Regions from separate parts of the Homo sapiens genome. Here region 1 is reported to be linked to region 2. The links are microRNA targets in miRTarBase. Many come from high-throughput screens and were not tested one by one. Region 2 holds a microRNA gene; the other region holds the end of a gene's coding sequence.
What was found. Region 2 holds the annotated microRNA hsa-miR-30a-5p (UGUAAACAUCCUCGACUGGAAG, at 5,170-5,191, shown strand). A microRNA usually pairs through its seed, bases 2 to 8, with sites in the 3' UTR of a target mRNA and lowers its output. Matches are read on the target gene's strand: a 7mer-m8 pairs with bases 2 to 8, a 7mer-A1 pairs with bases 2 to 7 and ends in A, and an 8mer does both.

Region 1: miRTarBase lists GMFB as a target of hsa-miR-30a-5p. The part of its 3' UTR that is shown has no 7-base or 8-base seed match.

What each region holds. Positions count from the first base shown.
Region 1 is chr14:54,472,034-54,479,136 of GRCh38, reverse strand. It overlaps GMFB (glia maturation factor beta), which reads left to right. Exons shown (of 7, transcript NM_004124.3): 7 at 978-4,652. The coding sequence ends at 1,049. Among named protein-coding and RNA genes, the nearest start is that of GMFB, 13 kb to the left of the region's middle.
Region 2 is chr6:71,401,661-71,408,785 of GRCh38, reverse strand. MIR30A (microRNA 30a) reads left to right here and starts at 5,165; the gene lies at 5,165-5,235. LINC00472 (long intergenic non-protein coding RNA 472) reads left to right here. Exons shown (of 3, transcript NR_121614.1): 3 at 1-922. RefSeq lists an enhancer at 6,169-6,697.

The sequences.
Region 1 (7,103 bases), not on the chromosome of region 2:
AGTTTTATTTTAAGAACAGCATCAGTATTTTCCCCTTGGGTGCTTAATAATCAACTCTGGAATGCCTTTAAGTGCCCTCTGCTGTTTCCCCTTAGCCCATGTGATTGTTACCACTGCTTTATAGACATTACTTTTTCCTGATTTGTAACACAGGGACACTGGAGTTGCTCTAACGGTTTGGGTGGTTAAGAAGGAGCTGTTAACGGCCTCAAGTCTGTTCTAATCCTGGGGATGCCCTACAGTGCTGAAGTTGAGACATTACAGTTTACCAGTTACTTTTACAGATAATCTCATTGAATCCTTACAACAGCCCTGTGAGATATTCTGTAGATAGGAAAACAGACCCAGTGGATGAATGACTTGCTCAGGGTTGCATAACAGTAAATTTAGACAGAGCTAGGATTTAGCTCTGTCTAGGACTTAGGATTCACATCTGGCTCCAAATCCTATCCTTTCTGCTGTAATACATTGCTTTTCTATAGCCGTTATGCTTTCTGGGCCTGATTCAGATTCTTGCTGGAGATTTGTGGCTGATCTCCATCTCCCTCTGATATTTCCATTTGACATTCAGACTCTGGAAGACCAGCGTATGTTCCTCAGTTCCTAACTAGATTGATTTTAGTTGTGTTTACTTGGGATGTCTTCTAGGAGATAAGATTTACAGAACTGCTCTTTTAGACTATTTGTAGATTTGTGCTTTTGGGAGAGTTTTGGTTTCATGTTGTCTTGATTGCTGTACTTTGGTAACTGAGTACTTAGCATTTAAAAGAAGTGAAGTTCTACCTAAAAGGTATATCTCATTTACACAGGTTAAGTCATGAACAATATGAAAGGAAGCAGAATTTGGTATTTAATACTCAAATATATAACCAAAAATAGTTTGGTGTATAATACTCAAATATATTTTAAAAAATTCAAATATTTGACTTTTTTTTTGGAGTGTCAAAGTATGACCCAAGTTTTTTTTTTTTTTAAAGGTATTTGAAATAAGAAATACCGAAGACCTAACTGAAGAATGGTTACGTGAGAAACTTGGATTTTTTCACTAATGTGAACTTCTGTGTTTCTAAAGTATTTATGTATTAACCTGACCATACTGGAATCAGACATAAATACTTATTTATGCCTAAAAATGCACTGTTACTTACAGTTTGTTTCCTGCAGTAAAGAAAAATTCTTCATTTGTGCAAAATTTGAACAAAGAGGAAATCATCTTCATAGTAATGAAACTTTGTAAAGTGTTTCCTTATATTGGTAATTGTTAGGTGGACTACTTTTCTCCAGGGACTTTTTGCACTCTTGTGACTAATTTCTATAACTTATGGTTCGGAATTTGTTACTATTTACAGACACCATTGGAAAGTGGATATATTAGATTGTGAGAGACAACAGTTGCCTCCTTTTGACAAATACTGGATATTAGCAGTTTATTTATGAAAATAGCGTATTATCACTTGTCAAATCATTGAAATTCATTTGGGGTCAAAGACTTGAGTGACCCAGTATTGAGCCATGAATAATTTAGTGTAACCTGTATTACAAGTACATTGATGAATTCTGTATCTTCTTTGGTTTCCTGTATCTTTTTAATCAAGTCTAGAAACTATGTTCATCAGTCACTCATTTTTAAGGTCGGGAGTTAGATTTTATGATAGAATTATGACTGTTAGCTTTTCTCCTTATAGCATCTTAGTCTTAGAAATTGGTGGGTTGTAATAATCAAGGGCTTCATTCCTTTTATGTCATTTCTAGACAGTTTTGAATCTAGGTTAATAACACTTTATTTATAAAGCACCTCAATGTCCTGTGAACACTAATTATTTTAAATGTGTTAATACTGTGCCTTTGATTTGTTAGCTTTAAAGTTAGTTTAAGACTTTTACACTGCCAGTATTCCACATTTGGTGAAATTAATACTTTTTTAAAGGGTCCAAATAAAATAATTTTCTAATGTGTATATCTGAAATTTGTAATAAAATCAACTTCATATTTTAAAAATTCCAACTATCTGCTTGCATTGGTGAATATATGGCAGTCGAGAGTTATAATTTTGGGTATACTTGTGGTTAGTTTTGTGCCATAGGAAAAAATTATCTTAAAACTTTGGCCATAGTTAATAACATTAACACTTCAATAGCAATCACATCTTATATCCTAAATGTCAGAAGATATTCTGAACTGGATGCCTGAATAGTTAACTAAACCAGTCTTGTTAGATGATGGTACTCTTGGCATAAAGCGAGGATTCTGATATTTGGCATACTTGTAAAAACAAATACATAAGTAACCATTGAACATTAATTTGATAATAGGTCTAGAGACTCTAAAAACTAACCAAACTTGGTGAGTGTATTCTTATATTAAGAATATCTTAGTCATCTCAAAACTAGCAAAATTTAAATTTTGGCATGTTTTCCATTCATATGTTCTTTGCATTTTATTTTTGAGGTTTCTGTGAGAAGTAAAGATAGTTGGAATTTTTGCGATATTGAATAGAACATCTTCTGTTCCCAACACTGTTTGGCTTCACTAATTTAGAAGTCAGGAAGCAATAGAAAGTTGGAGATGAGGAAGTGCTAGAGTAGGTGTTTGTTTTGGTTCTTGGAGGGAAAAGATTCTTTATTCCAATTTCCAGAGAGAAGAGAAAACTCACCCAGGAAGTTTAAAAATTCTTTAAACAGGTATTTTGATATTGGAGAATAACATGCATATAATTCTGTAGGAATGCACATGTAATCCAAGTGAGTGGAGAGTGTTTTTAATGTTTTTGAATGAAGGAAATGAGGTTTTGTTTCACCTGTTTTGCAGCAGTAAGAGAAACTAGTGCTGCAAGAATGTATTTTTTAATGAAGTTCCTTATTTTGTCTTGCATGTTTTAGTTTTGCTTATTTTTAAATTTGGAGGTCCTCCATAATGTCAGATAATATTGACCTGCCATACGTTAGCACTCTTAGTTCCGCTACTGTCTTTAACAGGAGCAAAGAGCTGTGATAAACCATGCTTTTTTGAGCTTGTCTGACTCCTAATTAATAACATGTTTTTGGCAAGACAACAGATTGAGGTTAGAGGATCAGTAGGACATTTTTATTCCATCTGTCCTATGGGGAAATTTACAAATCCCGTGCTCTAAAATGTTCTCAAACATTTATATAGATTTCCCTTTCATCTTACTAAATTTTGCATTGTTCTTTTCAAGTATGTTTCGTATTTACTGTCTTTTTTTCTGCCATTTCCCAAATAATAACTCCAGATTTCATAATTCCAGTTTTTACATTCCGTTATCTTTCTGGTACAACCATTCCCATTCAGCCTTAAATCTGAGTCCTTTTTAGCAGCAACTTTTTTCCTGGGATCCTCCTTCGTGGTCTTCTAAGTCAGTGTTAGTTTTGAAATTTTTGGCCCTGCATAAGTTCTGCATAGCATCTAATGTCAAAATAGAACCAACTGGTAATCACAGTATTATTTAGTGTGGTTTCCATGACAACAAAAATACATACGAAGAAAACTTCTCAGGTTACTATGCTGAAATTCCAAAATGTCTGAGTTTTGAATAGTGATCACTTTGTTCTGGTATTGACGCAATTATATTAGGAAAAAAGTTGGTTGACTGTTTTTGTTTAATTGACTTCTAAAATGTTCAAATTGTCTAGTTCTAAAAGTTTACTAAATGCCTAGTGCAGTTAAACATACTCTTGTTTAAGTGTGTGTTGCTAAATTTTTTACTGTCATTACTAAATAATCTGTGTGGCAAAATGTGTGTCAGCACTTTTCCCTCCTTTTTTATCTCCTATTTTCAGGAGTCAAATGTAGCCATAAACTGTATCCTTGTCTGACACTTTAGCTAAAAATTTCCAGTTAGGGGAGTTTATTGCCAAATTAAATTTGGCTGTTCCCCCCAACCCATATAGATATTAAGGAAGGTGTACTTAAAAAATGTTTGGACTGCTTTTAAAACCTGAGCAATGTCATTAATCCATATGTGGACTAGTGATGAATAGATATTTTCATAAGAGTTTAAATGCTGATATTTGGTGGAAGTAGAGAGTAACTCATATTCTATCAATTCAAGTATTCTTACTATGGTTGCTTTCCCTATTTGTTCAATAGACTGATAATACTGGAATTTATAGAGTTTGAGCCATTACAACTTTTGTGAGGATGTGTTTCAAACATTTCTGGACAAATCTTATTTTGTATTTCTGGAAGAATGTAGTAATCTTCTAGACCGCTTAAAACCAATGCTCCCAAGCTGAATATTCTTGAGAAATTTGTTTTTATTATGCCATTTGACATTTCAAATCAGTGCTCATATACAGTAAACTTGTGATAGAAATTGTATTTTATTGCTTTTTGGATTATAATTCATATAAATATAATTACTTGAATATTGTTTGAGATCATTAACATGCCAGGGCAGTTCCCACTGATTTAGATGGTCCAAGATAATCTCATTCAGGAGGCTTGAAACATTAATGGTTTAGTCTTGTGAATTTTAACAGTTCTCTGTCATCGTTTAACAAAACCAACAACTGACACAACTCCTTAAGCTGTGGTTTCAGTCTCTGCTAGTTCATATTGCATGTTTATTTTGGACAGTCTTTTGTTAAGCATGGTGCTTGTACTGGTTTAAATAAAATGTTAACATTAAAAGACTTCCAGCTTTTCTTTTTTTACTCACCTCTTTCCCCCTTTGGAGTTACTGGTATGTACCTGGCTAGATTTGTGTGAGCCATAAACTTTATCTGGACAAACTGAGAGGCAAAATAAACAAGTCATTTGGCAGCTTGGTGGAAGGAGAAGATAATCAAGTTATAAAAATTTCTAAAACTTGGTCTGATGCTAAAATGTAGAAAATGTCAGTAAACAGTAGTAGGGACAGACAGAGCTATTTCAAACAATGAACGCTTGCTTTCAAAGGGAGAATTCGAAGTTAGGAGAGCTGTATACTTCGTAAGAAATCAAATTGAAGGTTTTTTTAATTGAATATAGCTTATCACTATGTATTAAACACCCATTGACAACCCGTCCTACCTTTATTACCAACTGTACTATATGGTATATGTTCAATAGGTATCTACTGAATGAATACAAATCACTAATAACATAGTTTTTAGAGTTTGCCATGTACTTGTGATTGTGTATGTTGTAATAGTCACAATTTGTTATGATGGTGAAAGGAGTAGTTTATGCCTTCCTGTCTTTAAGAATTTCACAAGGAAAATTGGCCCAAGCATGGGAACATTTATATCTTCCTTATTTATCAAATTTGGCCACTTAACCTACTCAAACAGCCAGCTCTTAAATTTTTTCACCTTCACTAAATAATACCTATTGTCTTTTTGTCCTTTTCACTTTTCAGCAGCAAGAAGCATTTGTAAGCACTTAGCCTCTGAACCTGGGCGCACTCTTGTAACCACCCAATGGGTTCTCCTTGCCTGCTGCCCAGACAGAGCCAATTTATTAAGATAGGAGAACTGCAATAAAGAATTTTTAGGCCTGGCGCGGTGGCTCACGCCTGTAATCCTAGCACTTTGGGAGGCTGAGGCGGGTGGATCATGAGGTCAGGAGATCGAGACCATCTTGGCTAACACAGTGAAACCCCGTCTCTATTAAAAATACAAAAAATTAGCCGGGCATGGTGGCAGGCACCTGTAATCCAAGCTACTCGGGAGGCTGAGGCAGGAGAATGGCGTGAACCCGGGAGGCAGAGCTTGCAGTGAGCCAAGATAGTGCCACTGCACTCCAGCGAGACTCCGTCTCAAAAAAAAAGAATTTTTAATTCACACAGAGCTGGCTATATGGAAGACCTGAGTTTTATTACCCAAATCAGTATCCCCCAAAATTCTGGGATTGAAGTTTTTAAGGATAATTTGGTGGGTAGGGGGTTGGGAAGTGAGGAGTGCTGATTGGTTGGATCAGAGATGAAATTGTAGGGGGTCAAGTGGGTTTTTCTTGGTGTCTTCTGTTCCTAGGTGGGATCACAGAACTGGTTGAGCCAGATTACCAGCTCATCACAGGCTCGACCCTGTGGTGCTTCAGAACACAGGGTCTGCAGAATATCTCAAGCACTGATCTTATGTTTTACAACAGTGATTTTATCCCCAGGAACAATTTGGGGAGGTTCCAGAATCATGCAGCCTTGGCTGCGGTGACTCCTAAACTATAATTTCTAATCTTGTAGCTAATTTATTAGTCCCTACAAAGGCAGACTGGTCCCTAGGCAAGAAGGGAGGCTTGTTTCAGGAAAGGGCTGTTATCATCTTTCTTTCAAAGTTAAACTATAAACTAAATTCTTCCCAAAGTTAGTTCGGCCTATGCCCGGGAATAAACCAGGACAGCTTGGAGGTCAGAAGCAAGATGGAGTCGATTAGATCAGGACTCTCACTGTCCTAATTTTCTCATTGTTAGAATTTTTGCCAAGGCAGTTTTACACTCATTTGCATGAGGGTACACCCTGAGTGGATATTGTATCCTTGTATAGTGTAGTTTTAACTGTTGGGGAGCCAATTAAAGATGTTACTGCTGAGCACTAGGGAGTTTTCACAGATAATCCTCTTATCTTCTACTTGAGATCTACCCCTAGGCTGTGTGAAAGCTCCCTGCTGAGGTTGCTGCCCTCTTTTAATTATAGGAAGGAAAGAACGCCTTGGTTGCATATCCAAATGCCACCATGCAAATCAGACAAAGCAGGAGGAGAGAGTGTGACTTCCAAAGTCACTGTTACTAAGTATAGATTCTCTTACTCTGGAATTTAAGGCTCTTCACATTTCGGCCCATTTCTTACATGCACTGCACGGTTGTCTTAGTCCGTTTTGTGCTGCTGTAACAACACCTGACACTGGGTAATGTATAAAGAACAGAAGTTTATTTCTCATAGTTCTGGAGGCTGGAAAGTCTAAGATCAAGCTACTGGCATCTGGCAAGGGCTTTCTTGGTGCATCCTCACAAGAAAGGGGTGAACCCCCTCTTGAAAGTCCTTTCTGTGGCGGCATCAGTCCGGTCATGAAGGTTTTTCCCATAAAGCTCCATCGTCCAACACTGTTGCATGGGGGATTAAGTTTCCAACACATGAATTTTGGAGGACATCTTCAGACCATAGCAAC
Region 2 (7,125 bases):
GATCATTATAAGTAAGGCATGTTTTAAAGATCTTCTTATCAACAGCTTAAAAATTAGCCAGTATATACTGAACATCCACTGTATAAAAAGCACATTATGGGGTGCTCCAGTAGGTACAGCAGTGATCGAGACAGAATCATAGCCTTCAGGGAAGAGGTATATGCAATGTTCTCTCCTTCCAAAGATTACCTAGATAGAGAACTGTTCATAAGAAATATCTTGGTACTGTCTACATTACTCTTGAGATATAAAATATATATTATTTCTTACGTCTGAAATGAGTCAGTTGTTTCTAAAACAATTTGTATTAAAGTATTCACATTAAAAATTTGTAAAATACAGAAAAGTAGAGAGAAAAAATCATGAATTTTTAACATGGTAATGATTATATCAGTTTCGTTCTTGGCGTTTCTTTAACTTGATGGGATAGCTAATGTTTTTTGTCATTGCATAGCTTTGTAAACTTGTCCTAAGGATTATATAATTTCAGCATGAGTTAGTTTCTAAGTATGTCAGAAATCTAGCTTTTTTGTGGTAATTGTTGTTTTACACAAAATGATTAATAAAAGACTCTAAACTAACCTTGGCTTTAGAAATGCTTTTTAAATTTTAAAATAGTGAATGAGTAGCAGATTACTTTCTAGTATTTCTTTAAGGTCACCAAAATCACTTAACTTGCTTAAAATATTGATGGAAATATCAACTACGTACAGTTGACCTAAATTAGAAATGGGTGTTTTTTAAATAGTGAAATTTATAAATATAATATGTATATTTTAAAATACAGTTTATATTATAGAGTTATGTTCCTCTGTAATAATTTCTCTTTACACTGAATCATGTTCAGTTTTTATTATGCAGATAATTTAATCTTACAGCTTTGATCTTTTTTAAAAAATAAAACAGCCATTTGGAGTCTAAATTCAGCCATGTGATTATTACAATGAAATTCATCTTAAATCTACCTAATGTCCCTTTAGATATAAGACCTATTTCAATAGAAGGGCGTTTCTTGGTTAGGGTTGCTCTTCCCGAGAGGAGTCTCCTGGAGCAGGAGCCCCTGGGGAGGAGTGAACTGAGCCAGCAGGTGGTCTAAGGGAGGTGCCAGGGAACTGCTGACAGTGACTTGCCTGAAGGAAGGGAGGGAGCAGGATGGGAGTGGGGTGGAAAGTCCCTTATTAGCCTGGAGGCTGGGATGCCCTGACCCTCTGGAATCCCCCTCCCTTGTAAGAATGCCAGCCAAAGTAGGAAGGAGGAGCTCCAGCCAGATGGGGGTCCCAGTGCAGGAGGAAGATAGTAGGGTGACCACAACCAAAAAAGCTGTCTGACAGGCTTTGAGATCTCTTGTCTGAGGAACTCCGGCATAGATAGTAAGTCAGTATTCACTTAGAGGAGAGTTTGGCAAGTGAATATATATGATGAATGAATGAGTAACTGAATGAACTGCTTTATCACCAAAGGATCTGGATATTTGTTTCTACTCTCAAACATTTTTTGATTTGTTAACTTTTTATGCCCAATTTTAAAAGAAAATGCAATTTTCATTGAACTATGATTGACTACTTCATATTTATTGAAACCCACACCCTCCAGTACTCCACAAATGATTCAGAAAAGCTTACAATAAAAAAAATCAGAATAGAAAAGTGAGTAACGGATGTGATTTCAATTCTCCAAGCCTGTTGTCCTTATCTGTGATGGTAATGATTATAGATGCCTTATCTTGCTGTGGCAGGGATGAAATGAGATCATGTGCAGGCATTATTTGTCATACAACAAATACATAGTTGAGGTTGTATTAAAATTAAGGCTTTAAACTTGAGTACATACACTTTTGCTTAATTCTCAATTTATTTTTCATTACCATTTTATCAGAGAATGATATTTAAGCGATACTCATTTCTAGAGTAGAAGAGATTTTATTCCTTATAACTGTAAACTCTATACTATCCAAGATAATACTCTTCTTCCTAGAATTTGAATTCGTTAACAATCTTTCACATTTTCACAATCCATGGGAAATCACTCCCAGTAAATGCTTACAGCATTCGTCCACTTTCATGAGGCAAGGAGTAGGTAGGTCTGTATTTGTATTAATTACAAAGAAATTCAAGGGAAGGTTCATCATTATCATCGTTAGCAGGAAATATAATGAATTAGAAGCCCTTGAATTGGACTAAAAGAGTGTGGAGTATGTGTAAAAGAATGAATCAGAGAAGGTAAAGATTAATTTTAAAGGGCAGAATTTTGTTTGTACATTTAGGTCACTTCAATTTCAGATCAGTTCTATGTATGCTTTCTAGAAAAGATATCAAAGACCACCTAGATTTCTTGCCTTTAGGTGTGTTTTACCAAAGGAACAAGACAGAAGATGAATGCCAAAACTATTAATGCAGCTACCCTGGACACTAAGCCCCCAAAGAGATGGAGGATTGGAGGATGTAGAGCCTGGGCACTGGGTCCAGTGCTGACATGGAACATGTTCATTCTTAGAGTTTCACTGCAAACACTCCAAGGATAGAGAGCGAGAAGGTTATGTGGACATGAGAGGAGAAGGGTGGAAGAGGATTGAATGGTTCAGGGTAGCTAAAAAAAATTTTTACACTTTATCTCGGGCTGCTTCTAAACCCTCCACCAGAAAGAATTAATCCTGCAAGCACTTAAAACAAAACTGATGTGAGGAAGATAATAAAACCTGTCCAGGGTACAGACATCCAGATTTGCAATTTAGGGTGGGAAGACTTTAGAGACCTTGTCTAACAGGGCTAAAGAGTATCCTTATGGTTTTAAAGTAGGTACATTGTTTTTTGTAAGCATTTCTAGGGTTATATAAGACAAATCAGAGTCTGATGTATTGAACACAATTGGATCTTATTCTGCCATATTTGTTTTTAATTCACGATTTTTAAATGGATTTACTGGTCATATTTCTCAGGTCATGGCAAGATTTTTTAGTCTTAAACTTATTTAGCTCAGTCCTTCTAGATCAATGGTTCTCTGCCCTGAAGGTGTAGCAAAATTGTTTGATAGCTTTTGCAAAATTTACATACCCAGCAGCCTCCCCATCAGCTGAATAAGAATTGCAATGTGGATGTGGCAGAGGCAATCAGGTATGTGGGGTTAGAAGAAGCTGTCCTGGTCATTCTGTTGCCACCCTCTCACTTGGAGAATTGCTGATCCAATGAATTCCTTAACATAACTTTGAAAACACAGCGTTTTGCTCAGAACTTCATGAATAAACATCAAATTTTCACTAAACAAAATAATTAAAGACCATAAGATCTTAGTTATAATACTTCATAAATGGAAAAGCACTTTATTGCCTGTATGTATGTGGGCTCCTCTTTTAGCAAGATATGAGCTAGGTGAAGTCTATGTGAAAGCTAAAGCAGATTTATTCCAGTCAGATGCCAGACAATTTTACCAGTTTAACTGAGACTCATTATTACTTAAACTACATGCTTGTTTTTTTGGTTACTGAGTAGTATAGGTCCCACTTGGATCAGCAATTCTCAAAGTGAGAGGGTGGCAATAGAATTATTTAAGTAATTATTTGTTATTTGAGGTTGTTTGCTTAGTATTTACTTGTCACTGTTTTACATGTTATTTAATAATTTACAGTTATTTAAAAGTGGTAAGATTCCAAGGCAAGTAGGGGACCTGTCACTTTGAGAAAAATTTATGGTGGTAAAAATATTTTCTTTTTGTAAAGAGTCACTGATATACAATGTCCCCCCAGGGTGTAAGCCTTGGTATTTATCTATTTTAATTAAAGAGTACTCTGCCTGTCTAGTCGTGGCTAACTTAAAAGAAGTGGGTATCTTGGTGAGAAGTTCACAAGGTTGGTAGCCATAGCTGAGTTTGGTGGATTGACTCAAGCTCTAGTCAGCAGTGGTATATGAATGCCAAGTACTAAGAATTTCTGGAATGTAGAATTGCACAGCACTGATAAAGTTTGCTTTGTTCCCCTGTGTGACTTGACCCATTGAGAAAACTGGTTCCCTAGGAAGTTTTAATAGTTCAAAGTCCTTAGTTAATAAAGAAAAAGGCCACAACATAATTCAGCTTGTTTTCACCTGCTGACTCAAAGATTAACTTTTTTAACCTTAATGGGATAGAGTTACCCTTTGCTTTGAGAAAGTAATTTATGGAGTTCTTCATATTTGTTAGTTTCAGTAAACATGATGCTTTTTGTGTGGATTTTATTTTTGTTTCGGGTTTGAGATCACAAACTACTAAGACTTACACAATTTAAGAACCTTACGGTAACTTCATCTAAAAACAAATCTCAGGGAAAGGCACACCCACTTTTCTGTATCAACTTAATCTTTCACTAGATTCAGAATGGTTTTGAATTACTTCAGGAAAGTAGTGACTGATAGAGCTTAACCTTCAGTTTTCCTCATTTATTTTCATAAGAGAATGGGAGTGGAATTCAAAACATTCAAATTTGGAGTTAATGTGCGTCACTGTTGTGAGTGATAGGTTCTGTGTTTTTCCAGTGGGAAACTTTGATCCACATACTGATATATGCCTGTGTTATACCTCGTTATTCTTTTCTGTTTTTCTCCTGATTGTTGCTTACTCTTTCAAAAATCAGCTGACTGTACAAGTCCTCTCTGGGAGCAGACTTTAGAGCAAAAGTGATCTATAAAAGCAGCATGTAAGTCTTTTTTTTTTTTGTCAGAGTTTATAACTTTCCAAGTAGACCTTTTATATTTTCACGGTAGTCTAAGTTCACTCAACTGCAGTATTTGATGTTAAATGTACGCTTTACGCTGTTAAGATAATTTAGTTTCTGTGTTTGGTCACTTTTGCTTAAAGGATTGTAATTACATAATGCATGTTGAAATCATATTAAGTAACCTGGCCACTTGCCTATTTACTTCTTGTGGCTAACAATAATGAATGAAACCATTTATATATGTTGTTTTAGTATATCACAAAATTTTATAGAAACTAGAAGCTCGGTGATGAATAATAGACATCCATGAGCCTTCTTATTTGTTTTGAATTTGAGACATTTTCTAGAATATTGCTGTTTGAATGAGGCTTCAGTACTTTACAGAATCGTTGCCTGCACATCTTGGAAACACTTGCTGGGATTACTTCTTCAGGTTAACCCAACAGAAGGCTAAAGAAGGTATATTGCTGTTGACAGTGAGCGACTGTAAACATCCTCGACTGGAAGCTGTGAAGCCACAGATGGGCTTTCAGTCGGATGTTTGCAGCTGCCTACTGCCTCGGACTTCAAGGGGCTACTTTAGGAGCAATTATCTTGTTTACTAAAACTGAATACCTTGCTATCTCTTTGATACATTTTTACAAAGCTGAATTAAAATGGTATAAATTAAATCACTTTAAAACCATGTCTGTACATTTTTAGAGGGCTTCAGCAGGGCATTGAGGAGGTGCTCTGTGTATGCATAGAATTTGCAATATCAAAAAGAAAGTATTCGTAAGAGAAATGAGGAAATGTGTTACAGTATTTTTATTTTTTTTAAAAGCGTAGTAGGGCAATATTTCCCAGAAAAATCTATGAAGTGATTTGTTTTGTCCTGCCCTTTCTGCAGTTTCAAAATAGGTGTTTTTTAGACCCATTCACAAAAAAAAAATCCATTAATGAAACCACAATTATTTGGGGGAAAAAAGTAAGATGAAGGGTTAGTTATTTTCACATTACTTGGATTAAACCCCTTTTATTTCCTTATAGGCTTAGTGTTTAAGTAATAAAGTAGCAGCTCTCAGCTTAATAAAGTGTCTAAAACAAACAAATACTGATTCAACTAACTCTATTATTTGAAAAACCTATTCTTGTTTCAGATGATTAGAATAGTATTTTAGGAATTTGTGGATACTGTTTCCATTTGGTTGAACTTTTAACTTAGCTTTATGCAATAACTCATATCTCTTAAAAATAATAAATACATCAAATTCTATCCTAAATATATGAAGACAATTTTAAGATTCAGAATCCTGTAGAAGATTTCTGTGATGGACATAATTTCTAATTTTCCTTTTTTGTAAATGCGTATTTTTCTTATGGCGGATATTTTTAATATTATACACTTAAATAGAAATATTTAAGTGTATAAGAGAAATATTTAAGTGTATAATAGAAATATTAAGGATACACTTATATAGAAACTAGACACTTTAAAAAGATATGAAAGTGATATCTTTTGTCCTCTAAAACACAGTATTTTATAAATATATAGTGTTTCCATTAATGTAAAAGAGTTTCTTTTCCCTGTTTAATACCCATTGATGATGATGATAAAGAAGTGATACTAAAACAGTATGATCATACCACTATTTAAAATAGTAGCATTTCTTCTAATACCTGGGATGGAGAGAAATATGTGTTAGAAATGTCTTTAAGTTTCCCTCATACATAAAGCTATCAAAACTCTATTAGTCATGCTGGGCCATGAGAGGTTCATCAACTGCCACTGAAATGCAAGGGGCTTGGAGAGGCCTCTGCCAGGCCCTGGGTCTGGAACTGAGAATGTGGTCTATTTTAATTGGTAAGCTGAAAACCCCTGGAGCAAATAACTCGGCTGTTTTTCTGGGGTCACCCGACCGTATTTCCTAGGTAAATGACTATAGGTTTGAAGAAATGGTTAAACTTTTCCTAAATCTTTGACCTTCACTTTCTTTAGGTTCTCTTCCTATGTTATTTTATATCCTCTTCCTTACCTTACTGCCCCTAAATTTTCCATTTTTCATTTTTATCTGTTCATTTTGTTCATGTAAATAATTAGTTATGGGAACTTTTTAATTTGTAAAAATTACAGCATTTTTAATTATTTTTAAATCAACAAATACAAACCTCCATAAGCCATTCCGGGTAGTTTCAAAATTAATACCTAGTATTTCTTATGTCTTGTGCCCCACATTTCCACAGTAATAATGTAAACTACTATTTTAAAGTAACATCAACAGTCCAGGCACGGTGGCTTACGCCTGTAATCCCAGCACTTTAGGAGGCTGAGGCAGGTGGATCACTTGAGGTCAGGAGTTTGAGATCAATCTGAACAACATGGTGAAACCCTGTCTCCATTAAAAATACAAAAATTAGCTGGGTGTGGTGGCACGTGCCTGTAATCCCAGCTACTGAGGTGG